4 linked regions of the Homo sapiens genome follow. The protein of the gene in region 1 interacts with the protein of each later gene in a pairwise test. Each region holds a gene or a part of one and is shown in the gene's direction. Other genes may lie near its edges.

Evidence for each region.
Region 2: the proteins of CHAT (region 1) and RBM46 interact in binary tests that used the Homo sapiens proteins (3 or more experiments, as listed by UniProt).
Region 3: the proteins of CHAT (region 1) and LASP1 interact in binary tests that used the Homo sapiens proteins (3 or more experiments, as listed by UniProt).
Region 4: the proteins of CHAT (region 1) and STAM interact in binary tests that used the Homo sapiens proteins (3 or more experiments, as listed by UniProt).

What each region holds. Positions count from the first base shown.
Region 1 is NC_000010.11:49,659,037-49,666,062, forward strand, and holds part of CHAT (choline O-acetyltransferase), read left to right. Parts: intron 1-3,608; coding exon 3,609-3,746; intron 3,747-5,740; coding exon 5,741-6,010; 3' UTR 6,011-7,026. UniProt on the Homo sapiens protein: Catalyzes the reversible synthesis of acetylcholine (ACh) from acetyl CoA and choline at cholinergic synapses.
Region 2 is NC_000004.12:154,777,050-154,784,292, forward strand, and holds the start of RBM46 (probable RNA-binding protein 46), read left to right. Parts: upstream 1-4,222; 5' UTR 4,223-4,387; intron 4,388-4,455; exon of another isoform or gene 4,456-4,623; intron 4,624-4,739; exon of another isoform or gene 4,740-4,883; intron 4,884-4,906; exon of another isoform or gene 4,907-4,925; intron 4,926-7,243. UniProt on the Homo sapiens protein: Essential for male and female fertility, playing a crucial role in regulating germ cell development by ensuring the proper progression of meiosis prophase I.
Region 3 is NC_000017.11:38,873,032-38,880,057, forward strand, and holds part of LASP1 (LIM and SH3 domain protein 1), read left to right. Parts: intron 1-848; exon of another isoform or gene 849-1,082; intron 1,083-5,054; coding exon 5,055-5,149; intron 5,150-7,026. UniProt on the Homo sapiens protein: Plays an important role in the regulation of dynamic actin-based, cytoskeletal activities.
Region 4 is NC_000010.11:17,647,148-17,654,173, forward strand, and holds part of STAM (signal transducing adapter molecule 1), read left to right. Parts: intron 1-7,026. UniProt on the Homo sapiens protein: Involved in intracellular signal transduction mediated by cytokines and growth factors. Upon IL-2 and GM-CSL stimulation, it plays a role in signaling leading to DNA synthesis and MYC induction. May also play a role in T-cell development.

The sequences.
Region 1 (7,026 bases):
TAGCAAAGGAAATTTCACAACACTAAACATGAAGAGAAGATTCTAAAATCTATCAGAGGATAAAAAAATCAAATACAAAGATCCATAAAAAAGATGTAATTAATTTCTGAACAGCATCATTGGAAGGTGGAAGATAAAAAGAGTAGTGTCTTCAAATTCTGAGAGAAAGTGACCTTCAACACACATTTCATACCCAGCTAAACTGTCATCAAGTTTGAAGATGCATCAAAGATATTTTTAGACAGAGAAAGTCTCAAACATTTTACTTATTAAGCACCATTTCTCATAAAGCTACTGGAGAATGTAGACTTCTAAAGTGAGAAAATAAAACATAAAAGAGGAAATCATAGGCTGAAAAAAAACAGAAGATTTAACACAAGAAAAAGATAGAGGGGTGCCCGCAGGATGACAGTAAAAGGAGATCACAAATCAACAGTTGTTGAGTACACCTAGAGAGCAATCAGTCCATAAAGAAGCAAGAAGTGAGAGGACAAATGAAATTCTTGCTGCATGTTTAGGAATCAGTTAGAAACAGATACATGGGGCCTGGCACAGTGGCTCATGCCTGTAATCCTAGCACCTTGGGAGGCCGAGGTGGGTGGATCACCTGAGGTCAGGAATTCAAGACCAGCCTGGCCAACATGGCAAAACCCCATCTCTACTAAAAATACAAAAAATAGCCAGGTGTGGTGGCACATACCTGTAATCCCAGCTACTAAGGAGGCTGAGGCAGGAGAATCACATGAACCCAGGGGGTGGAAGTTGCAGTCAGCCGAGATCACGCCACTTCACTCCAGCCTGGGTGAAAGAGCAAAACTCCATCTCAAAAGTAAATAAATAAATAAATAAAATAGATACATGGAAAGCTAAGGAAGTAAAAAAGTAATTTATACATTGTCAATTCTAGGGAAAACAAAAAATTCAATAAGAAAGGAAATCTAATCATAGTACACTACATGACCCAGCTGTGAATACTTGCTTAATTATACTTATGTATATCGTTCTGTATACATGATTATGCTGTATCTTGATCAAACTACAAAGAGTTAAAACATAATCTTATTGGGAAGATGGGAGAGTAGAAGTGTGCTGGGGGAGCAGGGTCATAAAAGAGCTGAAATTGGCCGGGTGCAGTGGCTCACGCCTGTAATCCCAGCACTTTGGGAGGCTGAGGCAGGTGGATCACAAGGTCAGGAGATCGAGACCATCCTGGCTGACACGGTGAAACCCCATCTCTATTAAAAATACAAAACAATTAGCCAGGTGTGGTGGCGGGGTGCCCGTAGTCCCAGCTACTCAGAAAGCTGAGGCAGGAGAATGGCATGAACCCAGGAGGCAGAGGTTGCAGTGAGCTGAGATCGCGCCACTGCACTCCAGCCTAGACGACAGAGTGAGACTCCATCTCAGAAAAAAAAAAAAAGAGCTGAAATTTCACTGTCTATAACAAGAAGATTATAGGTAAAACTGAGAAATTCAGTAGTGGTAACCTAAGCATATGTTTGGAGGAAAGAAAGTATATACCCAAAAGAAATAGCTAAAAGACTGTAAGGAATTACCTTTGTGGGGTAGGAATCCGTGCTGGCAAAATGACCTAGGCTTTTGGTTTATTTGGATTTCTAAACGATATAAATATATGACAATAACAACTTTAAATTTATTAAAATGTCTAGGAAAACACCCTCCAAAGCATTGCCATAGGGTTGTGTTAATAATTTTAAGTTGATGAGAACAACCAAATCAAAGAGATGGGTTTGGGGAAAGGAGAGATACAAAGATGCTTAGGATGTGAATCTGGTGTGTGGTTGGACATGGAGGGTAAGGAAAGGGGGAAAGAAGCAAGGAAACCTAATAACTGGTAAGCATATTTGCCAGTGGTCGTGGAGAAATAAAGTTCCAATGGCAAGGTGGTCCAGAGCCCCCATCACTTACTCTCCCACTTCTATGTTTTCCCTTCCTCACACTTGAGTTTATGATCATGTTTTTTTGCATGGTTGATGAAATCTGTCCCCCACTACACCATAAGCTCCACAAGGACTGAGTCTACAACTGTCTTGTTCTCTGTTGTGGCTACAGGACCCGCGGCACCAGGCATATAGTAGGCACTCAATTAAGATTCCCTAAATGAATGAATGAAAGACTGAATTATAAGTCATTTTACTCGTTATTACTCATGGCTCTGAGCCAAACAACCTGTGAACTCAGTCTCTCTTGCTACAGTTATTCCAAGGTGGTGAAAAGAGGGGTGAGTTGACTGTTCACAGGGAAGCTGCTTCTATGGACCAACACAAATCAGGAATTAAATAGAGGAAACCAGAGAAATTAAAAGAGTAGTCTCCTTCATAGATGGGCTCACCGTTCTTTCCTTCGGTCCTAACAGGTAGGGCACGTCTAAAGTGAGCTGTGGTTGTGTAATGTTTGTCTTTTCAGCCTCTAATTAGGTGCGTTCAGAGAGACCAGAGCCTGAGTCATCTTTATGCATTCATTCGCAACTGAAAGAGAACAGCTGTCAAATCCCTAAACGTGCCTTGTAAACCTATACCAAGTTCATTGTGAATGGGAAGTTTCCTCCTGTGCAGGGCTTTGACAGCTAACTGGCCATCCTACAGAACTGTGAAACCCCAAGAGTTACTCACAGTTACCCTGATGTTGACCCAAAAGTGATTACTATGGGTCAGGGTGGCCCCCTGAGTCTCCATCAGCCCCTAGAATTGCTCCAAATAAACATGCAGTCCAAAAAACCAGTGTGCATACTACATACCCAGCCTCAAGTGGGGGAGCTGTAGAATGAGTACCCGGCCCCACTTCCAGACACCTCACCCTCCGTGAACCCCTCCTACATTGACATCCTGGAGCTTTCTCTATATTTCTATCCTTTGATAAAAGTTTAAATATCTTGTGATAAAAAGAAAAAGAACTTTTATTATTCAACAGGCTCTTTCCCCTTGAAAATGTCAGTTGAGCCTGCTAAGGGGTCTAGTTCCTGTCTCAAAACGATTTCTTAGATTATGGATCCAGTTTAAATGAATTGATCCTGAGCCATGAAATAGCAGCCAAGATTCAGTAACAGATCTCACACCCTCTATCCTCTATCTCTTGTTCCCTGGGCTCCTACTGGAGGAGACAGCGCTGGTTGTGGTGGGAGTCTGTTCAGGACAGCCTGGGACGCCCTTCACAATGCTTGCACAGGATCCGGTAGTCTCCAAGCTCTGCACACAGCCTTCTTCCCAAACTCTCTCCCTGCCCAAGCAGTTGGTAGTTGAGAAGACCAGGCCAGCCCCATTCTTTCCACTTAGAGAACCAGGCGGATATAGTTGTGTAGGGGATGCTCAGACTCACTAACCTTTAGCTCAGATGTCTCAAGCTAGAACCCAACCTGCTCTGGACTCATTCAGTGCATGTGGAAATGCGCAAGGGCCCGGGAGCAGAGGCCGCATGGTAGAGCGGTCAGTCCTGAGCAGCCACTCATACACATTGTTGGCAGCAGGCACTGGGTAAGCATGAGCCGTGGCTGCTGGAGTCACCAGCAGTCCTGTAGACTACAGAGCAGGGAACAAGGAGGTGCAGGAGGCCCACTTCTCATCTCCTGTTCTTTGTCCCCAACTACACAGGCCATAACAGGGATGGCCATTGACAACCACCTGCTGGCACTGCGGGAGCTGGCCCGGGCCATGTGCAAGGAGCTGCCCGAGATGTTCATGGATGAAACCTACCTGATGAGCAACCGGTTTGTCCTCTCCACTAGCCAGGTACGGCCCCGTGCAGCTATCGCCCAAGAGTAGTGTAGTCAGTAAGCTTTCTAAAGAGCAGTGACAACAAGCCCACTAGCTGGAATCAGGCAAATCCTGCCTCTGCTTTTTCTGAACTATGTGATCTTCAGCAAAATGATCTGAATGTTCATTAGAAGATGGTTTACTGACCAGGCTTGGTGGCTTACAACTATAATCCCAACACCTTGGGAGGCTGAGGCAGGAGGATTGCTCCAGCCCAGGAGTTTGAGACCAGCCTGGGCAACATGGGGAGACCTCATCTCCCTATTTTTAAAAATTAGCTGGGCATGGTGGTGCGTGCCTGAAGTCCCAGCTACTAAAGAGGCTGAAATAAGAGGATTGCTTGAGCTGGGGAGGTGGAGATTGCAGTGAGCCCTGATTGCACCACTGCATTCCAGCCCAGGTGACAGAGTGAGACCCTGTCTCAAAAAAAGAAAAAAGGAAGAAGAAGGTTTCCCATCTCCTAAATGGGAGTAATCAGCAGACCCTACTTAGCCGAGGTGGAGACAGTACAGGAACATACCCATTCTGGTGCCCTAACCATTACACCTTACTACCTTTCAATCTATTGCCGCGGTTTCCACGGGCTCTGATGCCCAGCAGGTCTGCAGTGAAGTCTTGGCTTGGCCAGATACAATTATGTAGGGAGAAAGCCCAGCCCAGGGCCTGGCATGGACAGGGCCCTCTAAATAGGTCACAGATATTATTATAAAGGGCCACGCAACCAACAGCAGAACATTCGTGGCCAGCCCAACATCTAACCAGTGCCTCAGCGTGTCCTGTATGAGAGCCACTGCCACAAAGACAGAATGCAATCCATTAGAGAGAGGTCGTGGTTTAGGAGGGGAAATGCCCCACAGCCATCAATTTACTAAAATGCCACCTCATCTGCGAAAGGCTGGATGGGCAGTACTGGAGTTGATAAGCTGTGTTTGAGGACAGAAGCCCACTCAGTAATGGGATGTTGTCATTATGGCAGTGAGCATGCAGACGTGAATAAACGAGGACAGAACACAGCACCATAAATTTCTCAGGAAATCATCCATGGGCAAAAAGTGCTTTGGAATGGCTTTATGGCCTTCGGCTATTGCACGGCAAATTTATCTGACAATGTGGTGACTCTATTAGCAAGACTAATGGTTTGTTCTGCCCCATTAAAACAGCCAGTGTCACTTCCAAAGGCCTCAGCACACAGCACCAGAAACCTGTAGGTTTAAAACAAACCAGGCCCTGCACCTGCCCAAGAATCCTTTCTATTTTTTTTCCCAAGGACCAGCTAATAAAATTAATCTGGGGTGTGGGAGTTTTGTTGTTTTCCAACTGGAAAGCAGCATTTATGGCTTGAATGCTTTCAGAAACATACTTTCTTGGTTTGTGATCTGGATTACAAAATCTCAGCACTCTGATTCAAAACATACTAGGTGCATAAGTAAAACTGATGGCAATCTTTGAAACACCCAACTCTGGGTAATTGTGCATGGCCAGGCTGCAGGGAGAAATCAGAGAAGCCAGGCAATACTGACAGTAATTAAGGATCTGGGGGAAATCGACACAGAGGATGGGCCAGATTTCCTCCAGTTCATAAATTCCTCCCTCCGGAAAGCATCTAACTATGGGGTGCCACCAGGGGACCATTTAGTAAATTACCTGATTGCCTCCGTGCCTCAAATGGCCCCCAGGTGAAGTGGAGACTCAGCCCAAGACCTAGCACCAGGTCACTCCGGGAGCTTCCAACTCCACAAGTAGAGCAGATTGCACACCAGGGAGTGGGCTTGGGGCCCCTCATCCTCTGATATCATGCAGTTAGATGGGTCTGTTTTTATGACTCTGGCTGTGTCCATCCATGCTAAAGCAATCACTTGATTTGGTTAATTCAGTCAAACCCCCAGGTGGAAAACAGAGAAGCCAAGCCCAGTCGAGGCTGGCGGGCTGCATTCCAGAACAAGCAGCTCCTGACCTGTCCTCTCCTCCAGGTGCCCACAACCACGGAGATGTTCTGCTGCTATGGTCCTGTGGTCCCAAATGGGTATGGTGCCTGCTACAACCCCCAGCCAGAGACCATCCTTTTCTGCATCTCTAGCTTTCACAGCTGCAAAGAGACTTCTTCTAGCAAGTTTGCAAAAGCTGTGGAAGAAAGCCTCATTGACATGAGAGACCTCTGCAGTCTGCTGCCGCCTACTGAGAGCAAGCCATTGGCAACAAAGGAAAAAGCCACGAGGCCCAGCCAGGGACACCAACCTTGACTCCTGCCACTAGGTTTCACCTCCCAAACCCAGCCTCTAGAACAGCCAGACCCTGCAGATCCCCACTCCCGTCCCTTACCCCAGCTTTCCACAGCTCCCTGTCCTCAGGGTCCAACTCACAGACCATACAGAGACATCACACAGAGCCGGAGTGTTAGGAGGAAAGGGTCCCCTCTTCATGCATGGGAATCATCATTTTCAAGGTGGCTTTGGGCCTGCACACTGGGAAATGGGACCTGCCTGGCTCAGAGGCAGCCTGGATGCACTGGGGAACCACACTAAGGACTCCTTCTGTGGTCCTTGGAAGCTTAGTGTTCATGTCTCCTTCCCTAGCAGGACCTAGTATGTCCAGGTGATGCTTCTGCCCAAGGAAAGGATGAGTCACTCTATTACATGCAACGTACCTAATGAGTTAGGAAGGAAGAGGCTAACTCCAGGTCATTACCTCTTTTCTTTTTTGGGGGAGAGGAGGCTGTGTTTTGAGATTCAGAGCATTCTTATCGTGGCATTCCCAGTGTCTCCACTGAGCCGTACAGTCCTACAAGCACCCACTCCTCCCACACACACCACAGAGCCCAAGTCCATTTAAAATATAGTGACTTGGGCCCACAAACACATTTCTGCTTTCGTGCCCAGGGGCAGCCTTCTGTTGAGCTCAGAAAATTGTGTCCAGCTATTCTGAAAGGAAAAAAAAATTTATCTGTGACTGCCCTGGAGTTGCTGCCACTCTCTGCTTAGCAGGCGGCATCAGGGCCAGTCCAAGATGAGTAAACTGCACAGCCCCAAGCAGATGGTGCCTGGTGCCGGTGGGTTTGCAGAGGACCTGGCCCCTTCCCGGGGTCCTGCCATTTGCATTTTTTCTGCATCTTTTCCCCTCTCCTCCCCTCCTACATGCTCCAGTAGGTGAAGAGAGATGGTTACTTTGGGTTTTTCCATTATCTGTTTTGTTTTAAGACAGAGATTTTTAAGAAAACCACCCTGACATTAATTTCAGAAATTCTTAGTGATTCAAGCAG
Region 2 (7,243 bases), on another chromosome or scaffold:
GATACAGTGACTCATTAGAAAGATCTGATGCTTAGTTTAGAACCCAGACTGCATTATGGGTCATAATGGCATTCCTCTTTCCCCTTCGAGTTCCATGGACTCTCCTTATTTCCTGCATTTGAGAAATGCAAGCAAAGTGCCCTCTTGGGCACCAAACGGGAGTCTCTCTCTGCTTCCTCTGCAGTGACAAATGACAGAGTTGGACTGTCCCAGCTGGAATCATCCAGGGAAGATGCCATCCATGGAGTGCTAAGAGAGAAATGTCATGCCTAAGAAAGTGCTTTGCCTCACACATCCTTCATGGCCAGGTGTACTGAAGTGCCTGAACCAATGCTGGCCCTGTTGTCCTCAACCAAAATAATTTTCTTCATGGAATATATTTATGATGGCTTAAAAAAACTTAAAATGCAATTTAAAAGTTTCTGGGAGAACCAGAGTATCAGAATGAAAGTTAGAAGAGAGGAGTTGGAGATCCAGTATTGCTGCTGACTGGCTCTTTGACTTGGGGCAAGTTAATTTCAGCTTTCCCAGCCAAATGGTTGCTAAGGTGTCTTACAGCTCTAGTTTTCATTGTAACTTGTTACCCAGGGAAGCACACTACCAAACTTATCCAGTGAGATAAGACAGGAAAGATTTAATCACATTCTCTCTCAACCAAAGTTAATCAGTCTTCATTATCAGAAACTTATTTTTTATTACATATATTAGTTTCTTATGTTGTGAGTTAATCCTAGATCTCTCAGAGAAAAATGTGTATTTCCTTTCGCATCACCTATTTCTATTATTGTGGTTTATTTATGTATTTATTTTTAATAATTAGATAAGTGGATCCTGATGTTAACTAACAACTTATACCAATCTGAAAAGGGTTAGCTTTATGAGTACTTCCTTTAGTTTGCCCCTATGTCAACTGAGGCCTTGGTCATGGGTTTGGTCCATATATAGGCCATTAGCTACATGTGAAGAAGATCTCAGGTTCTGATTTGCTGCCTTGGGAAGTGAGGTTGTTAATCATAGGGGGTACACTGACAGGATGTAAATATGGCTCATCACCATAACTGGAAAAAAGCAATGTTAATGCGCCTCTCCCGCCACATATAGTCATCTTGGTGCTGATGCTCACCTTCCAGTATAATGAAAAGTTCAAATTCATCTGTCAGGCAGAATGCATTAAACCAGGATAAGAAAGTAAGGGTCAGTGAATTAGAATAAACATACTTACTACACACATAAAATAAAACAAAACCCCAAATCCACACTTCCAAAACAGGTTTGAGATGACATTTCAATTGAAGATTCACCACATTAAAGAGTTCCTTGTTCCTGAGCGATGTGCTGTAGATCATTAATTCTATAAACATGCAAGTAGCTGCCATGTTTTTGGTGGATCTGTGTCATATCACTGCCACAGTGATAAAGGAAGCTGAAGAAGCTCCAACACATGGAAAATAAACCAGATCACTGCACAGGCTCATTTATATGGAACAGAGGACTAAGTTGGATGTTAAACATTTTAAAGATTTCCCATTGCTTCTCTTTCCTTTGTCAGGGGGTGTATTTTGCAGAATGTATATGAAAATAACTTCTAAGTGATATAAAAGCTTGCATCTTAACTTCTAAGTGATATAAAAGCTTGCATTTTATATGGGGAAAATACATGTATTCAGACTATTTTTAACCACTTGAATTTTGCATCTCTTCCTTTTTTTTTTTTTTTTTTTTGAGACAGGGTTTCGCTCTGTCATCCAGGCTGGAGTGCTGTGGCACGGTCATAGCTCACTGCAGCCTCAAACTCCTGGGCTTAAGTGATCCTCTTGTCTCAGCCTAACTCAAAGTAGTTAGGACTACAGGTGTGTGCCACCACACCCGGCTCCTTCCAATTTTTTATTGATAACTTTTACTTCCCATGTCACACAGTCACTATTATTTCTCTTTCTGGTGTTTGCAGAGATCCCCTTCTATTTTCTCCCTTGTATGCCAAGTATCTTTCGACACTTCTTTTTAGTCACAAACACCTTTACATTGCTTATCATCTTCCTTCTTACTCATTTGGGTCACCTTTTCCCATAAGCTCAAATAATCTTAAAACAAATCCAATTTGGAATCTGTTACTGAAGAATTCTAGCTGATAAAAGTGTTTTGGATCTCTTTCTCTGGGAGCCTTGAGAAATAAAGTTAAAGGTCATTTCTTTAATTGTACATGCAGACAATAGTTTTTATAGCATTTGAAAAGTATACCTATTAATAAACTTTAGGATAATAAAAACTTAGACAAAATCTAACCAAAATGACATACAATGTTAAGTATGGGAAGGGTCTTTAAACAACACTGTCTCATCTATGGCAAGGTTCTATGGTCTGACTGTAATGCCTATTGAGAAGCCCTTGTCTATTTGGTTTTCTTTATACTTGGGGAGAAAAAAGACAAAAAGGGAAACAAGAAAACCAGCAATGTTCAACAACCTTCCAGGCTATTTCCAAGAACAATCTTTGTACCTCACAACATCTCCACCTAGTGACTCCTTAAGGATCTTACAGCCATTCCTAGAAATTACTTGTTTTAAATTGCCACTAATATGCCTAACCTCATTTCAGATAATTTAACCTTAAACACATGTATTTAGAATTAATTACTAGGAATTGAGAAGGTACCGACATGAAAATGAAGAATGAGGAGAATCTTTTTCTGGAGAAATAAAAGAGCAGCAAAAAATAGTAATCAATATAACAATCACAGTTCCCGAGGTACAGAATTGGTGACATGTCAAACAAAGCCAACTAGATCTATCAGTCTAGGTTTTCTAGTTGCTTTATTTTGAATGCATACATCTTATATAAAATGACACTTGTATTCATTGACTAAAGGGCAGACGGCTTACAAAAAATATTTGTTGAGCTTCCAGTGTGCATCAAGTACTATGCCAAGTTTTCTACTTGTTTCTGGACGTATTTTGAGACAGTATAGTATAGCAATTATGTCTGTAGGTTTCAAACTGGAGCCACTTACTTGCTATATGACTTTGCCCAAACTACTTAAGGTTTCTGCATCTGTTTCCCCGTCTGCAAAGTAGGGCTAGTAACTTTACCAAAGTTACTGTGAGAATTAAATGAAAATATGAAAAGTCCTTAGGATTGTTTCTGGCATCTGGCTCAATATTTGGTAATATCATATATTATTTTATTCTCACAATCCCCACTTTAAACAGGGTCTGTCTGGCTCCAAAGTCCCTGCTAATTCCTCACTGTTGTAGTATATTTAAAAATTAAAAATATACTTTAACAAAATTTAAATTGGTAGACATTCATTAGTTCCTTGAATATATGGAGAAAATACATTAGGAGTTAATGTGGAAGAAATCACCTTGAGGTTGGGAATAAGGAGATCTGTGTTACTCGGTGAATATTCTGGGCATGAAGTTCCTTGTTAATTAGAGAATCAACATGAGCTAGGTTCTTTATTGTCTAATATTCCATGAATCTAATATTATCTATACATAAATAGTTGGTTCCTAAAGGTGGTTTTTTCTTTCCTTGTCTGCATTTAATTTCGAGCTGTCTTCAAAGGAAGCAAAACTGAAGTTATGCATACCGAATGCCAAACAACCCTATCTGTGAAAGTTGGTTTTACAAGAGCATAGAACCCAGTTCGGCAGTTCGCCTCTGCCAAATGTCCCTGCAAGCTGATTAGTGGTAGCGTCAAGCCTATCGCTAGTTCTCCTCATCTAACCCATTTTCTTAGTCATTGTCATTTAAACCACTTATACTTTATACTTCTAGTCCTATTTGCAAATCCATCTTTTAGCTTTATAACCCACCTCCCCCTAGCCCTTAATTTCAAAGGTCCACCGGATATATGTGGTTGTTTTGCGCCAAACTAGCAGTTTACAAGAAAACTACATCAAACAAGAAAAAGAACCATTACGATGCATCTATGTTTTCCCTTAAGTGCGGAATTTCACACTGCAGCCCTCGTCTTCAAACACCTAAACAATGCACCTAGGACCTTCATTTATTATTCCGTGCCCACCCACACCCTAAAAATCGCTCTCTTCACCCCAATTGCTCGAAATGCCTGTCACTCCAAGCACTTTGACTAGCCCAAGAGCCTCATTTAAACTTTAGCCCCACTCTCTCCTCCTCGCCCCGCCCCGAAGCTAATCCCTGATTGGATGAGGCACCACTCCTCGTGGGGCTGCTTAGGCCACCGCGCGCGCTGCGCGCTGGGAAACGAGTGGAGACACGAGGACCAGCGCGAGCGGTCCCGGTGGGCTACCCTCCCCCTGCGACGACCCCCCCTCGCTCTGACCGACTGGTCCCCTAAACGGTGGCGGCGGTTTTTGGTCGTTGGGCCCCGGGATTTAGGACCAACATTTGAAGACCCGAAGGGGTGAGGAGGGGAAAGGGGAAACGGGGTCACTACCAGACCACTGCTAACGGCTGGATAGTGCCCGGCTCACTCTCACGCCGAATACACAGTGGGGGCTGGCGGCGGTGGCTGCGGGGTTCACCCTCGTCCTTCCCCAGCCCCGTCGAGCAGTGGGAGGGCAAGTGTCCGAGACGCTGCTTCCTGCCCCGGCAGCATCCGGCCAGAAGGCGCCCTCGCCGTCACCCAGGCGCTGCATGGTGAGGGCCCAGCGGCCAGTCTCTTTGGGGCGTCTGGCGGCCTCTTCCGCCCCGCGGCGCCCTGCGCTCTCCGCCTTATTTCCGCTCTCCCCCGCTGCCTTCCGGCCGCTTCCCACCTGTGCTGCATTTCGTGTTATTTTCCTGACACGCTTACGCCGACGACCAACGACCGCTGCAGGCCCGGGCCGCTGCCTGGCCGTTGTAGGGTCCGCGCGTCCCCTGGAGGCTTTGGACGCCGTCTGGGGCGTCCCGACGGCTGGGTGAGATTCAGCAGTCTGGTTTCAGAATTGAATTCAGGCTGGGTGAGCTTTAGCGGGCTCCTAGTCGTTTGCGTGGAGTTCTAGCCGGGACTGAGCCTCGAACTTTACTTTGCCTTTGTCTCCCTGTTTCTTCCCCGAGTACCTCGTGTGTGCTGGGCTGTGGGCAGTGGGAGGCCGCGGGTGCACAGGGAAGATAGCTCGCCTCTCCCCCGACACACGGACGGCAGCACACGTCGTGGCACCGCCTTTGTTTCCTAACATCTGGTAGTTTTTAAACCCCTAATTTAAAAATGTTTCTTTGGAGCTGCTGGAAAAACCACAGAACCAGCGGCATTTAATCCTGGCGTTGATATTCTGAGATATTGCGAAGCTGCTTGATTTATTTGGGCACCAGTTTTCTCCTATGTAAATTTAGCTTAGGTAATATTTAAGTTCTTTAAGCTTTAACTGTCTTTACATTCTTGATAAATTCCCCGTAACCTTTATGTTATGTGGTAATCCTAATATAGGCAAATATCAAAGAGGAAATATCATAAGGAGTTTTTTTGTTTTGTTTTTTGTTTTGTTTTGAGACGGAGTCTCGCTCTGTCTCCCAGGCGGGAGAGCAGTGGCAGGATCTCGGCTGACTGCAACTTCCGCCTACCGGGTTCAAGCGATTCTCCTGCCTCAAACTCTCGGGAGTAGCTGGGACTACAGGCGCGCGCCACCACGCACAGCTGATTTTTGTATTAGTAGAGACAGGGTTTCACCATGTTGGCCAGGATGGTCTCGATCTCTGGACCTCATGATCCACCCGCTTCGGCCTCCCCAAGTGCTGGGATTACAGGCGTGAGCCATCGCCGCCGAGCTTTTTAAGTCTTGGCTTCTCTTAAAAATTGGCCTGATTTTGTGTTTGAGAATGGCGTTATAACCAGGAAGCAGGATATGTTGCGTGTATAAGGAGAATAACATATAAAGGACATGTTCAAGGGTCTGTAGAATTTTGCTTATTTAAATAATGGGAAGATATTTTCGTTTCAAGAATCACCACGATGTATATACAGTTTGACAGACTTCCATTTGGATCTTTTCAGAATTGAATCTCCTTATGGGGGTCTAATAATAGACTTGTTTTCAGGGCACACGTTTAAAACATTCTACTTTAAACTTTGTTTGCATCTGTCTGCATTTGTTTGCATTGTTAATAAAATTTGTTTGCATCTTTATAGACATAAAGATGACAGTGCTGCCTGCAATCACTAAATATTAATGCTTTCTGCTTAAGGCACTGCTTTGATTGCTGATTTTCACTTAAGAGGTTGGAGTAATGTACTTGAATATTATTGCCAAATATAATACATATCAACACTTAAAATATATGCATTACTGGATATATTATGAAACAAGAATTATTAATAACGAGAACAAACCCAGTTTATGGACTGAAATTAAGTCTCAGGTTTAATGGTGTTATTTTATTGTTAGGAGAAGGAAGACATGTCAGTTTAAGTAGAGTTTGTGACTACAAATCAAGTAATTGCTGTAAAAATTGTCCAGATTTGCATATTAATGCCGAATGTTATTTCTCATTTTACTACCCGATGATTGATGAGGCAAGAAAATGTGATCTCTATGTTCAAATTGGTAACAGATTTAAAATAACAGATTATGAAGGACCTTGTGTAAGGAATGGTGTACTTAATTTGGACAAGAATATGTAGATATCTTTATCCTGAATTCAAACAGCATATACACCTTTGTGTTCAAAGCAGTATTTTTTAAAAGTATTAGTTACAGTTTTTTTAAATAGTTCAATTTTTAAGTCATTCAGAATTTAAACTTAATATTAAAACTTTTATCCATTATATATTTAACTTCTAGCAATAAAATGTGCTCTCATTCTTTAATAAAAACAACTTAAAATGGAATTGAACTGATCCATCTGTACACTTATTTCGAAATAATTTTAGACTTCCATGTCCACACACTTTTGATTAACTCTTCTCGTTTTCCAAGAACGAGAAGTGTAGTGGCTGTAGTGCAGTCTGTCACTAAAATGAATTGCTGCTTAAAAACAAACAGAAAACCTCCATTGACCTGGCAACCATTGACCTGGCAACCATGGTTTCCATGTACCATACTCAATGACAACAGTGCTAACAAATCAGGAGTTTAGTACCATGTAATTCAAGAAATGTCATAAACATTTAATGTGCCCCTATAAAGGCACGCTTTGATATTCTTAATTTTTTTCATTATTACATTGAGTTTTTAAAACCCACAGTAAGATTATATAATGTTCTCTTTCACAGCTTTCTAAATTTTTACAGTAACTTGGAAGATGAAGTTTCAGTTGAAGTAGTTTTAATACAGCTGACACA
Region 3 (7,026 bases), on another chromosome or scaffold:
ATTTATTGAGCACCTACTTTGTGCACCTGCTTTGTATCTAGGGAGCTGTGTTGTCAAGAACCTCGCCACGTCCCTCTTTCCTGGCTTGCTTCCCCAGGTTTCTGAAAACAGGTGGAGGTAGAGGATTGGTCTGCTGCCAGTTCCCCTGGAATCCCCTGTTAGGGTGGGCTCTCTGCCTCTGCTTGTCTCAGCGCTCCCTCCCCACTCGAGGGGGTTGAAGTCCTCACAGCTGTGGTGCCCCGTTTTGCTAGCTGAAGCTTAGAGTACCCCACCATCATCTTGTGACCATCCCTTCATAATAGCTACTAGTTATCACGATATGCTGGGCTCAGTCTTCACAGCAGCCTCACAAAGTAGGTGTATTCGCTCTTGTAAACGATGCACTCCATAAATGGAGGCTCAGGTAGCCCATGTGGCTCATCTCCCTCTCTTAGAGCTGAAATTCACATCCACAGTTCTTTCTGCTCAGCTCTTCTGCCAGTGTGTTTGCAGAAAGTACTTTTATTTATACATATTTATATTTTATTTACATCTCATTTGTGCCAAAAGTAGGTCCCATCCCTTCCTGACCCTATCTGGAGGAATGCTCTGGGCCTGGGGTCTTGTATGGGGGCGTGGGGCCACTGGGAATAATCCTGTCCTCCTCGGAATTTGTGGAGGTGCAGCAAAGATCTATGCCTTTAAGCCAGCGGGTCAGGTGGCCAACCAAGCTAGGCTGGTGCCCCGGCCAGGGTGGGGCTGGCATTGCCTCTGCAGGAGGGAGAAACTGTAACCCTGGGCAACAGGAAGGGAAGAGATGGTCTCATAATCCATCCCTGAGTCATGGCCACCCCAGGTAGCCTGGGTTCAGAGGCCAAGGTGCCAGGCTGCAGGCACAGTGACACGAAGCTTGCCACATCCCCCCCAACCCAGAGCCACAGAGGGACAGGCTGTCCCAAGTGAGGGGTATCCTTGCAGGCTTCTGCCCCTACCAGCCTGTTTACCTTTCTTTAGAGTGGGTTGCAGGTAGGCAAGGGAAGATCAAGATGACCCTGCCTTGGAGCCTCGGATCCAGGCTGAGAGGCCTCTAACAGGCAGCAGAGGTAGGGTCTGTCTGGTTTCTGTGAACAGGGAAGCCATGGACTTTGCAGGCAGCAGGAAGGGGCAGAGGTGCATGCCTCGAGGTGCAGTTTCCTTGAGTCCTGAGGCCCAGGAATGCTTCGCTGAAATCATCTTGCCTGGGGCCTTTAAAAGAGGGGGGCTCTTGCTCTGGGACAGAGCCCATGGGGCAGGGCAGAGGCAGACGGGGTCACTGTGGGGTCCTCTGGACATATTTCCCTGACAGTGTCCTTCCCCAGACCCCATTGAGACAAGGCAGGAGTTCTTTCATCTTAGGGTCCAGGCTTGGCTCACAGCGGTTGTGGAGGGACTGGCCATTTTCTGCCTCCCCTCCCCACAATTTTCCTACCCCAAAAAGGACACAGTGGAAGGAGCTGGTGGGTTTTCTTGAACCTTGGGGCCTTCCTCCAGAGAGGGTAGGGGAGTCGCCTGAAGCTGCTGGAGGTGCCAAGCATTAGGGGTGGAACGGCCTCCTCTCCTGACCTTCCAGCACTCTGGGAGACAGTGGCTGCAGCTCCACTTGACACTTGTGCTTCATAGTAACTGGTTTCCATGTTTCTGCTCAGAGCCCCCTGCAGGGGGACAGGCGACCACCCTCCTCTGCCCCACCCTTGGGTGTCTGGATGAGAGTGTGGGGCCTGTGAGGGAGGTGGGAAGGAGCTACTGATAGAAATAGGTGCCATCCCCTAGAAGAGGGGCTCTGCTTCCTCCGCGTGGCAGCCTGGAGGGGTCTTTGGAACCACTGGGTCCAGTGTTGGCCCTGTGCCCCCTGCCTGCTCAGTACACCCCACCCTCCTTCTCCAAGGGGCTTGGCTCCGGGTGCAGGCCTGGCCATCTGGAGTAGGGGTCTCTCTCCCTTTGTCTCCCCAACGTCAATCAGGAGGCAGCCTTGGAGGTCCGTGGTCCTAGGACAGTGTGTAGCCCTTCGTGTGTGTGTGTGTGTGTGTGTGTGTGTGTGTGAGAAAGTGGGTCATGGTCTGGATTCTGGAGAATGTTTTTCCTGGCAGGCCCCTGTGGGGGTAGGGGGAGGCAGGGGCCCAGGCAGGGGCCTAGGCAGGGGCCTGTGCAGCTAAGTAGGCAGAGGCCAGCAGACTGGGTGGTGACCAGGCTGGGGCACCCTGCCAATGCCTCCCAGTTACTCGGGGAGGGAGTGGGGCTGTCACTTCAGGGGCCTGTGGGGGCAGGGACCAGCCTGTCTTAGTGTCCCTGGTGGGTTCTGTGTGTTGGGGTATGCACCACTTCAGGGGCCTGTGGGGGCAGGGACCAGTCTGTCTTAGTGTCCCGGTGGGTTCTGTCTATTGGGTTATGCACCAGAAGGAGTCTTTAAGTTGCCTCATAGGAGTTTGGGGGCCCTGGGTCACTGGGATAGGCCCAGGTTGGGGAGGGGGCCAAGCTTAGACCCGCCACTTCTTTGCTTCCAGACTTCCGGCTGGCCGTCCTCCCCAAGAGTGGTTCTCCTAGCATTCTGTTTAATATTCCACCATTAGGTTTTTCCTTTGGGTCTTCTTGATAGGGAACCAGTACCCTATTAGAAGGTGATTTCCCCCTGAAATTACCCTGGGGGTCTCTGGTTGAAGTGGGCCATGGTAGGGAGGTTGAATCCCAGATTCTCAGCCTTCTTTCTGCTATCCCCTCCTCCCAGTGTCTCAGAAGCACCTCTCCCTCCGGGGGTTTGGAGACAACATTTTGAAAAGCATCGCCTTGGGGGAATTCCTTGACAAATGGCCAAGAACCAGCTCTGTGGCTGGGCTCCTTCAAAAGTCCCCCTGGGCCTGCCTCCTGGCCTCCTTCTTTTGGAATGGGGAATGTCTCCCTTGACTACTGGGAAATGGGGCAGGGACAGGCCAGCCAGGTCACTCAGGTGGCCTGGATTATTCTGGGGTCCTGGCAGTGGACCCCTGTTTGGTGGTGATCCAGCACATCATCCTGGGCTTCTGGGGGTGAATTTAGATCCTGTTGTCATGGGTTTGCCTAAGCATCAATACTTCTCAGGGGTTCCACAAAGACCCCTCCAGGCTGCCACGTGGAGCCTGTTAGATCGTTTCTCTTTTTTTTTTTTTTTTTTTTGAGACAGAGTCTTGCTCTGTCACCCAGGCTGGAGTGCAGTGGCACAATCTTGGCTCACTGCAACCTCCACCTCCTGGGTTTAAGTGATTCTTTTGCCTCAGCCTCCCAAGTAGCTGGAATTACAGGCATGCGCCACCATACCCGGCCTATTTATTTATTTATTTATTTATTTATTTATTTTTGAGATTAAGTCTCGCTCTATACCCCAGGCTGGAGTGCAGTGGCATGATCTCAGCTCACCGCAATCTCTGCCTCCTGGGTTCAAGCGATTCTCCTGCCTCAGCCTCCCGAGTAGCTGGGATTACAGGCACGCCGTCACTGCACCCGGCTAATTTTTTTGTATTTTTAGTAGATACGGGGTTTCACCATGTTGGCCAGGCTGGTCTTGAACTCCCAACCTCCAGTAATCCGCCTGCCACAGCCTCCCGAAGTGCTCGGATTATAGGCGTGAGCCACCGCTCCCGGCTAGATCTGTTCTCTTTCTGTCATCACTCTCTTCCCTCCGTCGGCCACCCTGGATGGGCCCTGTGTCCCACATTCTCTTTTTTTTTTTTGAGACGGAGTCTTGCTCTGTCACCCAGACTGGAGTGCAGTGGCCTGGGTTCACGCCATTCTCCTGCCTCAGCCTCCCAAGTAGCTGGGACTACAGGCACCCGCCACCACGCCTGGCTAATTTTTTTGTCTTTTTAGTAGAGATGGGGTTTCACCATGTTAGCCAGGATGGTCTCGATCTCTTGACCTCATGATCCGCCCGCCTCGGCCTCCCAAAGTGCGGGATTACAGGCGTGAGCCACCGTGCCCGGCCGTGTCCCACATTCTCACACGCATGAATGGATTGGAGCTGTGGTTGGCACAGTGAAGCCCCTCTGCACCCCAACACACACAATCTCCAGTGTGAGCCCTGACCCCCTCGGCTAAGGTTCACACCTGCTGTGCCCAGCACCTGACATCTGAGTGCTCAGAGGTGCCAAGTGCTGTGCTGAGGGCTTTGAAGGTGATTTCTCCTCAGTCCTGGACAATCCCAGGAGGGCCAGGTGTTATTACATCCATTGTACACACCAGGAAGTGGGCTCCTCTGAGGTGCAGGGCCCCGCCCAAGGCCATACAGTTAGTGGGGTAGAGCTTTGATGTCCACTATAGGGGTGTCCACCTTCAAGGCTTTGAAGTAGAGCCCTTCAGTGCCTCAGTGGGAGACCCGCTGCCGGGTGCTCTCCTGCCCTCCTCCTGGGGTGGGAGAGGATGAGGGAAGGGTAGAAAGGATGTGTTGTGTTGACAGAGCCTGGGACACCCAGCCCACTCCTCTGGCCAGGCATCCCACAGGAAGTGGGAGGTATCGGAGCTGTAGCACCACCTGGGGCTCATGTGGGGCTGGTGGGTGTGCTGGGCCCTGGTACAGGAGCTAGGAGCACCTGGGTTCTGGGCCTGGGTGTGTGGGGGCTGGGCCTTCCTCTTCTGAGGCCTTGGTGCCACCAGAGGAGCTGCTCCTTCATGTTCAGCGGCTGCTCCCTAGCAACCCAGCGCAGCTTTGCATAAGCAATGAGGCCTCGCCAGCTCTGGGCAGGAGGGGTTCCCTGGGGAGGGTGGAGCTGACTTGGGGGCTGCTGCCACTGCTATAACTGGGCTCTTCCCCCCTGTCCTTCATGCCTGCCTGTCTCTTCCTCCTGGGTTCAAATGGCCCATTGGTGGAGGATGAGGAAGGAGAGAGGGGAGGGGAGTGCCAAAGCCTGTGACCTGAAATGCCCCCAGCTCACCTGGGATGATTCCATGTTCTCCCCACAGCCATGGGCCTAGGACAGTCCCAGCAGCTCCTGAGTGCCCCTTCCTAGGGCCTGAGCCCCTTTTTCAGAAGTCCTGGTATCTGATGTATGTCCTCCTGTCTCCATCCCCAGTTCTGGCATAAAGCATGCTTCCATTGCGAGACCTGCAAGATGACACTGAACATGAAGAACTACAAGGGCTACGAGAAGAAGCCCTACTGCAACGCGTGAGTCCTGTTCTGGGCAGGGGGCTGGGTGGGCACCTTGGCTCCCTCCCCGAGTGAGTTCTTCCTTTCCTTCCAATAACCGCAAGGTGACATTGGCGAACACTTCCATCCCCTACTTGAACATCACAGTTTGTCCTCACAACAGCTGAATGAAGCAAGCACTTTTTATCCCCATTTAAAGTGCTTTTATCCCCCATTTAAAGTGCATTTAAAGTACAGATGAGGAAACTGGGGCTTAGGGAAGGGAAGAGACTCTCAAGGTGGGATGGCTAGGGCAAGACAGGCTCTAACCCAATTTCGGGCAGTAAGGCGAGCACGTTTCTTTCCACTGTCCCCTGCTACAAAAGAGGGGGCTTTCCTCGTGGTCTTTCAAGAATGAGTGACGTGTCTGTTGTATTTGGGGTTGAGGACTTTGTTCTGTTTACCTTCCCTTATTTCTCTCCTCAAAATCGACAGTTTCCTTCTCTCACCTGGGTACTTCTAGGCTTTGGGGGCTCCTTCCTCCAGTGGTTCCTTCAAGAAAACTCTCTGGAAGCCTCATGCCAGCCCTTTTGGTGTTCATTTTTTGAGAATGGGCAGGGGTGCATAAAGGGTGTTGCCTGGGCCAGATAGATCTCTTCCCTGCCTGGTGAGGGAGGCTGTGGAGACTGTTTCTTTTGAGTATAGTCATCTTGAGTATAGTGCAGCTCTGTTCCTTCTGCACTGGGACCTGCAGCAGCTGACGGTAGGGAGGGAGTATAGAGGTGGGGTCCCCCATCCCAGAGCCTGGAGGAATACCTCCCCTCCCATCCCATCCCATCCCATCCCATGCAATCCCAGAAAGTACAGCAATTTTCCATCTTCCAATTGACCTTGTGAGTAGCAAGTACAAACTCAGTGTTGGGGCCTCACAGCCGCCTCCACCTGCGAGGTGGAGGCTTTGGAAGGTCAAGTCACTTATAAGTAATGATGTAATGATAATTTCTTTTTCTTTTAATTTGCTTTTTTTTTTTTTTTTGAGTCAGAGGACTCATCACCCAGGTTGGAGTGCAGTGGCGCGATCTTGGCTCACTGCAACCTCCGCCTCTTGGATTCAAGCGATTCTTGTACCTAAGCCTCCTGAGTAGCTGGGATTACAGATGCATGCTACCATGCCCAGCTAATTTTTGTATTTTTTAGTAGAGACCGGGGTTTCACCGTGTTGGCCAGGCTGGTCTCGAACTCCTGACCTCAAGTGATGCACCGCCTCAGCCTCCCAAAGTGCTGGGATTACAGGTATAAGCCACCTCGCCCAGCCTTAATTCGATTTTTTTTTTAATTTTAACTTTTTTTTTTTTAACTTCAACCAACTCAAGTAATGGTAATTTCAGTGTTCACATGAATTTAGGATCTGACTTGAGTCCAGTTTTTTTTTTTTTTCTCTTAATTCTCAGTCAGGAGGCTCTTTGCAGCTGAAGTTCACCCAGGGAAAAAAAAATTTGGGACTTGTCTAAAAAGGGGGCTTAAACCTCCAGCCTTACCCCTAACCTTACCCCAAACCTTCCTTGCTTCCTTACCCCCTCCCGTTCCCTGGCTAAGACCACTCTTTCATCTTTTTAGGGGCTCGCTCATTCAGCAGACATTTATTGCCTGCCTGCTGCTATAATACATACTAACCTGCACCAGGTGCTGGGAAAACAGATTCCTGATAAAAATCTCAAGCCCAAGAAGCAACATGAAGTTGTCCCTTCTGGAAGAAGGAGGGCACTGGGCAGGTTATCTGGGTAAAGGAAGGGTTGCAGCTCTGTCCTGGCCCCTCCTTCAGCTGCCCCTTCTCTTCTATTAATTTCTACTGTTCCTCTTCCCCCTACCAACCCCTCCCACCCCCACAAGGGAAATGGGACATTCTTCGAATTCTT
Region 4 (7,026 bases), about 32 Mb from region 1:
TGCTGAAGAACTTTCAGTAAACATTTATGGAATAAATGAATCTCATTTTGGACATTATAATTCAAGAGCTGAATTTAGAAGAAACGTAAAGATAACTTATTTCATCAAGTTTGTATTTCAAAGTCTCTAGTGACTTCCACCTTGCCAAATCCAATGGTCACTTTCTAGTCCATTTCTTTTTTGATCTCTTAAGCATTCCTCTTTGATATACAGTATTTTATTCATGGGATTTCAGGACACCAAACTTTTTCTCATTTTCTACTTAGCTCCTTTTAAATTTTTTTGCTTCCCCTTTTTGCAACTTCTAAAAGTTGAGTGCCCTGCGGCTCAGTTCCGGAGCCTCTTCTCTCCTTCCACTTTTTTTTTTCCCTTAGAGTATTAGGAAGCAATTTAGCTTAGTGTTAAGAATTCAGACTGGGGCCACACTGCTTGGATTCAGTCCCAGGTTTGCTGCTTACCGGTAGTGTGATTTTTGGCCTAGTTGCTTAGATAATCTGTGTCTCAGTTTCCTTATCTTTAATATGGAATATAAGAGTAATAATAGTTCTTACCTCAGAGAGTTGTTAAGAGGGTTGAGTTAATATTTGTAAAGCACTTAGAAAAATTTCTGTACTTTTTATTAAGTAAGATTTTAAAAAGAACCTCATCTAATTTCTTAGCTTTAAATACCTAGCGTATTCTGGTGACTCCTGGATTTATGTTCTTACTCTCAGCCTCTTGCCTGAGCTCTCGACCTAGATATCCATCTCCTTACTGAGCATCTCCATTTGGATTCTGCTTAGAGTCTAAAAACAAACATTCAAAAACTCAATTCTTAGTTCTTTGCCCAAACCTGCTCATTCCTTCATCCTTGCCCTTCTCAGTAGACGACAACATGATTACTGTTTCCTGTCACTGAGCTCCAATGTCTAGGAGTATCACTGATTCTTCTTATTTCTTCACACTTCACATTCATCCTATCAGCAAGATATTTTGGCTGTACTTTAAAAATATATCCAGAATTTCATTGACAGGTGAAACTAGCTGGACTTCCTGGGTCAAGTGGGGACTTGGAGAACTTTTCGGTCTTACAAGGGGATTGTAAAATGCACCGATCAGTGCTCTGTAAAAACGCACCAATCAGTGCTCTGTAGCTAGCTGGAGGTTTGTAAAATGCACCAATCAGTGCTCTGTAGCTAGCTAGAGGTTTGTAAAATGGACCAATTAGCACTCTGTAAAATGAACCAATCAGCAGGACATGGGCGGGGACAAATAAGAGAATAAAAGCTGGGCACCCTAGCCAGCAGCAGCAACCGGCTCGGGTCCCCTTCCATGCTGTGGAAGCTTTGTTCTTTCACTCTGCACAATAAATCTTGGTGCTGCTCACTCTTTGGGTCCGTGCTACCTTTAAGAGCTGTAACACTCACCACAAAGGTCCGTGGCTTCATTCTTGACGTCAGCGAGACCACAAACCCACCAGAGGGAACAAACTCCGGACACATCATCACCTTTTTCTGTCTCACCATTCTTACCTTACTTCAGTCATTGTTATCTCTTATAGTCAGTGGCAAGAGCCTTCTGGTAGGTTTCTTTGTTACCACTCTTGCCTCTACAATCAGTTCTCATTTACAAAGGTCAGTGATCTTTTAAAAATGTTAGATAATGTCAGTTACCTGCTCAGAGTTCTCTGGTAGCTTCCTATCCTACTTAAAGGGAAATGCAAGTTTTTTTATTGTGGCTCACAATATGGCTTCTTCCTGTGTGTCTGATATGATTATGATCTCCAGACTCACTCTCTTGAATTCCAGGCTTCTTAAATCTGAACGCTCCAAGCTCATTCCTGCCTCTGTAGCTATATGGTACTCTTTGCCTGGGATACTCCTCACCCAGGTATTTGAAGGTCTGGATATTCATCACACCCATTCAGGACTCTGTTCAAACGTCATTTTCTGAGACGCTTTACCTAATAATCTTCTGTAAAAAATATCCTTCTTGGGCTGAATGCAGTGGCTCACGCCAGTAACCCCTACACTTTGGGAGGCTGAGGCAGGAGGATTCCTTGAGGCCAGGAATTGGAGACCAGTCTGGGCAACATAATGAGACCCTGTCTCTACAAACAATAAAAAAGTTAGCTGGCATGGTGGTATGCCTGTAGTCCCATTTACTCGGGATGCTGAATCCAGAGGATTGGTTGAGCCTGGGAGGTCAAGGCTGCAGTGAGCTATGACTGCACTCTTGCCTGGGCAAGAGAGTGAGACCCTGTCTTTAAAAAAAAAAAAAAAAGAATTAAAAAAAATGCATCTTTACCCTCTCACTCTGTTTCTTTGTTCCATTTCTTTTTCTTTATAGTACTTAGTGACCTGACATTAATTGATTGATTATCTTTTGTGTGGAATATAAACTCCATTAAGATGAGAACTTTTCATTTTTTTTCCCCTAATACTTTAGGGATAGTGTCTGGTACATAGAAAGCACTCAAGAATTATTTATCAAATAATGAATTATTGGTGTTTTTCTAGAACATTAGTCTTGTATTTCTATTTGCTGTTCTTTTTTCCCTCCAAAACAAATTCATCTGTCAGAAAACTGAAGTTATCTTTCTAAGTCTGGCTCTTCATTCATTATTTGGTAACATTTTTGTTTGTTTTTAAATCTTTTTTTACATTAATATAGATGGGGTTTTGCCATATTGGCCAGGCTGGTCTTGAACTCCTAGCCTCAAGTGATCTGCCTGCCTCAGCCTCCCAAAGTGCTGGGATTACCGATGTGAGGCACCCGGGCCCAGCCAATTTGGTAATATTTTAGTGTTGTAGTTATCTTGACTTGAAACCCAAGAGGCATCTTTGAATCATTTCCCTGCCTCTGCTAAATCATCATATGTCTTTGTTTCTATAATAGAATATTTGTGTTCCCAGTCAGACTGCTTTGGGCCAGTCCACATCCTACATACTTGGACATTTTTTTAGTCTGCTTTGCTTAGTCCAGTCAGCCTCATAAATCATAAGCTAGATGAATCTTAAATGTTAATGTCACATTCTCCTGAAGTGTGATATGATAGAAAGACCTTGGGCTTTGGGCTTAAATTGCACCTGCAGCATTTACTCTTAGTAAATGGACACAATGTATAGTTGGATAGGTATAGGACCCCTTTGAATTCACTTTCTACTTTGGTAAATAGGGATAGCAATATCCATTATACATCATGCGGATGCTATGAGGATTACTTGTGAAAACACATGACATTCTGACTCTTTACCAGAGTTGAATAGGCTTCAAATATCTCAAGTTCAGCATGTTCAAAACCATTTGAAATTTTTCTTCTCAATTATGCTTTTTGTCTGTTTTGATAGTTGGTACCTAAGTTTACTTAGTCATACAAGTCGTGAACTTGGGAGTAATTCTTGACTTCTGTAGTTGTAATTTTCTACATTCTAAACAACAAATGTATCCTGTCTACCCTGTGCCAGATACCCTGGTACCGAATATGCCCTCAAGGATTCCAGGTTTAGATCACCACTCTCTCAGATTAGTACAGTAGCTTCCAGCTGTTCTTCCCTGCTTCCAGTTTTTCCCTAGTTATTTTCCAGATGGCTGATGGTGATATTTTTAAAATGTGAATGTACGCGTGGCCCCTCCGTTTAAAATATTTCTAGAGAGGGCTGGGCGCGGTGGCTCACGCCTATAATCCCAGCACTTTGGGAGGCCGAGGTGGGCGGATTATGAGGTCAGCAGATCGAGACCATCCTGGCTAACATGGTGAAACCCCATCTCTACTAAAAATACAAAAAATTAGCCGGGCGTAGTGGCGGGCGCCTGTAGTCCCAGCTACTCAGGAGGCTGAGGCAGGAGAATAGCGTGAACCTGGGAGGCGGAGCTTGCGGTGAGCCAAGATCACACCACTGCATTCCAGCCTTGGTGACAGAGCGAGAGTCCGTCTCAAAAAAAAAAAAAAAAAAAAAAAAAAAGTTCTGAAGAATCTACCGCTTTCACAGTACTTTGAACTTTTCAGCAGGGCATGTAAGGCCTCTTATATTTGGCTTCTTTGTGACTCTTGAGCCTCACCTTCCACTTTTTTCTTGCAGGTGTATTTCACTCCTTATTGGTTTTATGCCACTGTGCTCTTCAGGTGTGGATCCTCTGGCTTGACATACCTATTTGTTCATTAATCCTCAGTAGGTTTGTTTTGAGGAGATGATGCATGTAAAGCACTTAGCATAGCACCTGGCATGTAGTAACCAATGGATACGTTTTAGCTCCTTTTATAATCAAGTTAGAAATAGATGTGGGGACTATTGGATTCTAAGGTGTGCAATCAGTTACTGTTAAAACATAGGAGAGAAATGTGAAAATTCAGAATACAAGTATGTTAACCATCTGATATCCACTGGATTAAGAACTTGTATTCTTTGATTCTTCTGTCCCTATTTTACCTCTCCTCTAAGCTGTTTTTTCTAATGCCTTTAGGTTATCATTTCTGTTTTATGTTCCTCTCTGAAATGCTTCCATGCTGTTCTTTTGATACCTACTTCTTTTTCTGGTTAGCAGAGCTTCAGATTACATTTCTTTGCAGATACAGTTTCCAGGAGGATCAGGGATATTAGATGAAAGATTTTTGAAGAATTGATTTGCAAAGAGGATAATTTCTTTCAGACTTACTTTTCCATTGGCCATTTTTAATGAACTGTTACATCTTCGGGCTGACTGAATGACAGTCCTTTCCTCACCACCTAAATGTGATGCGAAGTCCTCCTGTCAGCATTTCTTACCTCCCCAGATCTTTGACAGTGATAAATTTTGAGAAAAATCAAAAGTTGCTGCTTATCAGAAAAAGTTCTCTAATCTTTTGAAAAGACTATTGAAATTCAAATGAGGCTCTGTGTATGTTTTTTCTGGGTACTGCTGGGCAGATTTCTCAATCTCCTCTTTTTGAGTATTAGTGTAAGGATATTCTCAGGATAAAATGAGATCATTATGAAGCTTTGAATTCTTTAGAAGCAAGTCTGTTATTTTTGTCACTTTTCCTTTTCCCACAAACCCTGTTTTTGTCTTAGAAAATAAATAGTTTTGACTTCATTTGCTATTCACAGAACCATGTTGTAGGTAGTTTATATCCTTCTGATTAAAAAAAAAATACTTGTTCTTTTATAACTGAGAAGAATTGTGCCACTGATTTTGATGATTTTGAGACAGCCTCAATAAATGATGTGAACAATTTTAGATTTCTGAAGTGGGTTGTGTTTCTGATCCATCCATACAAATATGAATCAGATGCTGATTCTATTTATGTGTAGGAAAGTAATAAAGTAGTTCATGAGTTTTCAACATAATATCTGCTGATAACTGTATCATATGTTCCTGGATGTATCATTAATCAAGAACTGTAAGATAGCACTCAACTATGATAGTAGGCAATTTATATTTGATCAGATAAACTGTTAACTTTTTAATAAGTTTTAATATGCTTAGCTATTATGTTTTTGAATAAGGTGGCAGGTTTTAGAATTTAAGTGTGTTCTTTTAAAAAATGCACTTAAAAAAAAAACAACCTGCTTGGCTACCAGTCAGTGAGAATGATGAATTAATTATTAAAATGCACTACCAGACCAAAGTAATAACATGCTTTCCTTTTCTAAGATGAAGTAAGTGATATTGTTCAGAATGACTCACTCAATATTCTTGGGCTTTAGAGGGGTTGAGTACCTAGGGAGCAGGCTCTGGGACTCCTCAATCAGAGCACTTCCACTTGGGTTTGCTGTATATATTGGGTTTCTTTTAAGATAAAATTCTCTTATAGTGTTGAATGATAAATAATTTGACTAGTCTTTGTTTCCTAGGAGACAGCCTCTAAATCCTTGGAATTTTCTGAGTGATAAGAGCATCTTTGTTATTTTTGGTGGGCCCCTGGGATAATAGCTTAGTTTATGCTAATAAGATGACTTGGTCTGGGGGCTGGCCACTCCAGAAGGACTAACCATGTGATTAAAGGATTTGGGCTTTGAGTCATAGGACCTCCTGGGAAGGATAGGGACCTGGAGATTAAGTTCCACTGTGTGGTCCTATTTCATAAATCATACCTATATAATGACACCCCAATTGTAGAATCCATGAAGGTACATTTCCCAGTCCATCGAAACCTACACTGAAAAACCGAATATTCCGCGATAAAAACTGGAAACAAGCTATTTGTGAAAATGCTTTGTGATGTGTGGATTCATCTCACAGAGTTAAATGTTTGTTTTGGTAAAACAGGTTGTTTTGATAAAACAGGATAAAAACTCTGAACACTGAAGCTCAGTTAAGCATTCTGGTAGGTGATACACATTGTGGTGATACACACTGATGTATTTGGAGGGTGATGAAGCTTCCTAGCACAGAAGCTTTATGTTTGGAACCCTCCCAGATCTAGCTCCATACAGGTGGTTGTTTGTATCTGGGGGTCTGCATTCATGGATTCAAACAACAGTGGATCAAAACTTGTAGAGGAAAAAATATCATGTCTGTACCGAACACATAGAGACATTTTTCTTGTCATTATGCCCTATACAGTATAGTTATTTACATAACATTTACATTGAATTAGGCATGATAAGTGATCTAGAGAAATTAAAGTATATAGGAGGATGTGCAAAGGCTTTATGCAAATTCAATGCCATTTTATATTAGGGACTTGAGCATCCATACATTTTGGTATCTGTGGAAGATCCTGGAACCAATCTCCCATGTATACCAAGAGACAACTGCGTATCTCTATTGGCTGGTCCTGGTTTGTGTTTTTTGTGATAAAACTCTAATTGTAAGTATAGTACTTTCTATGTGAGTTGCTATGGTGAATTATCAATCCTGAAGGGTAGTGGGAACTTCCAGTTTGTATCCAGTTGGTCAGAAGTGCCTGGGGACCCCAGAGCTTGTGTCTGAGGTTTGAAGTGAAGGGAGTCTTATGGAGAGCTGTGTCTTCAACCTGTGAAGTCTTTGCTGACTGGGTAGTTAGCATCAGAAGTATGCTAGCCCTCTGGGTAGTTAGCAGTGCATTGTAGAGGGTTTCTGCAT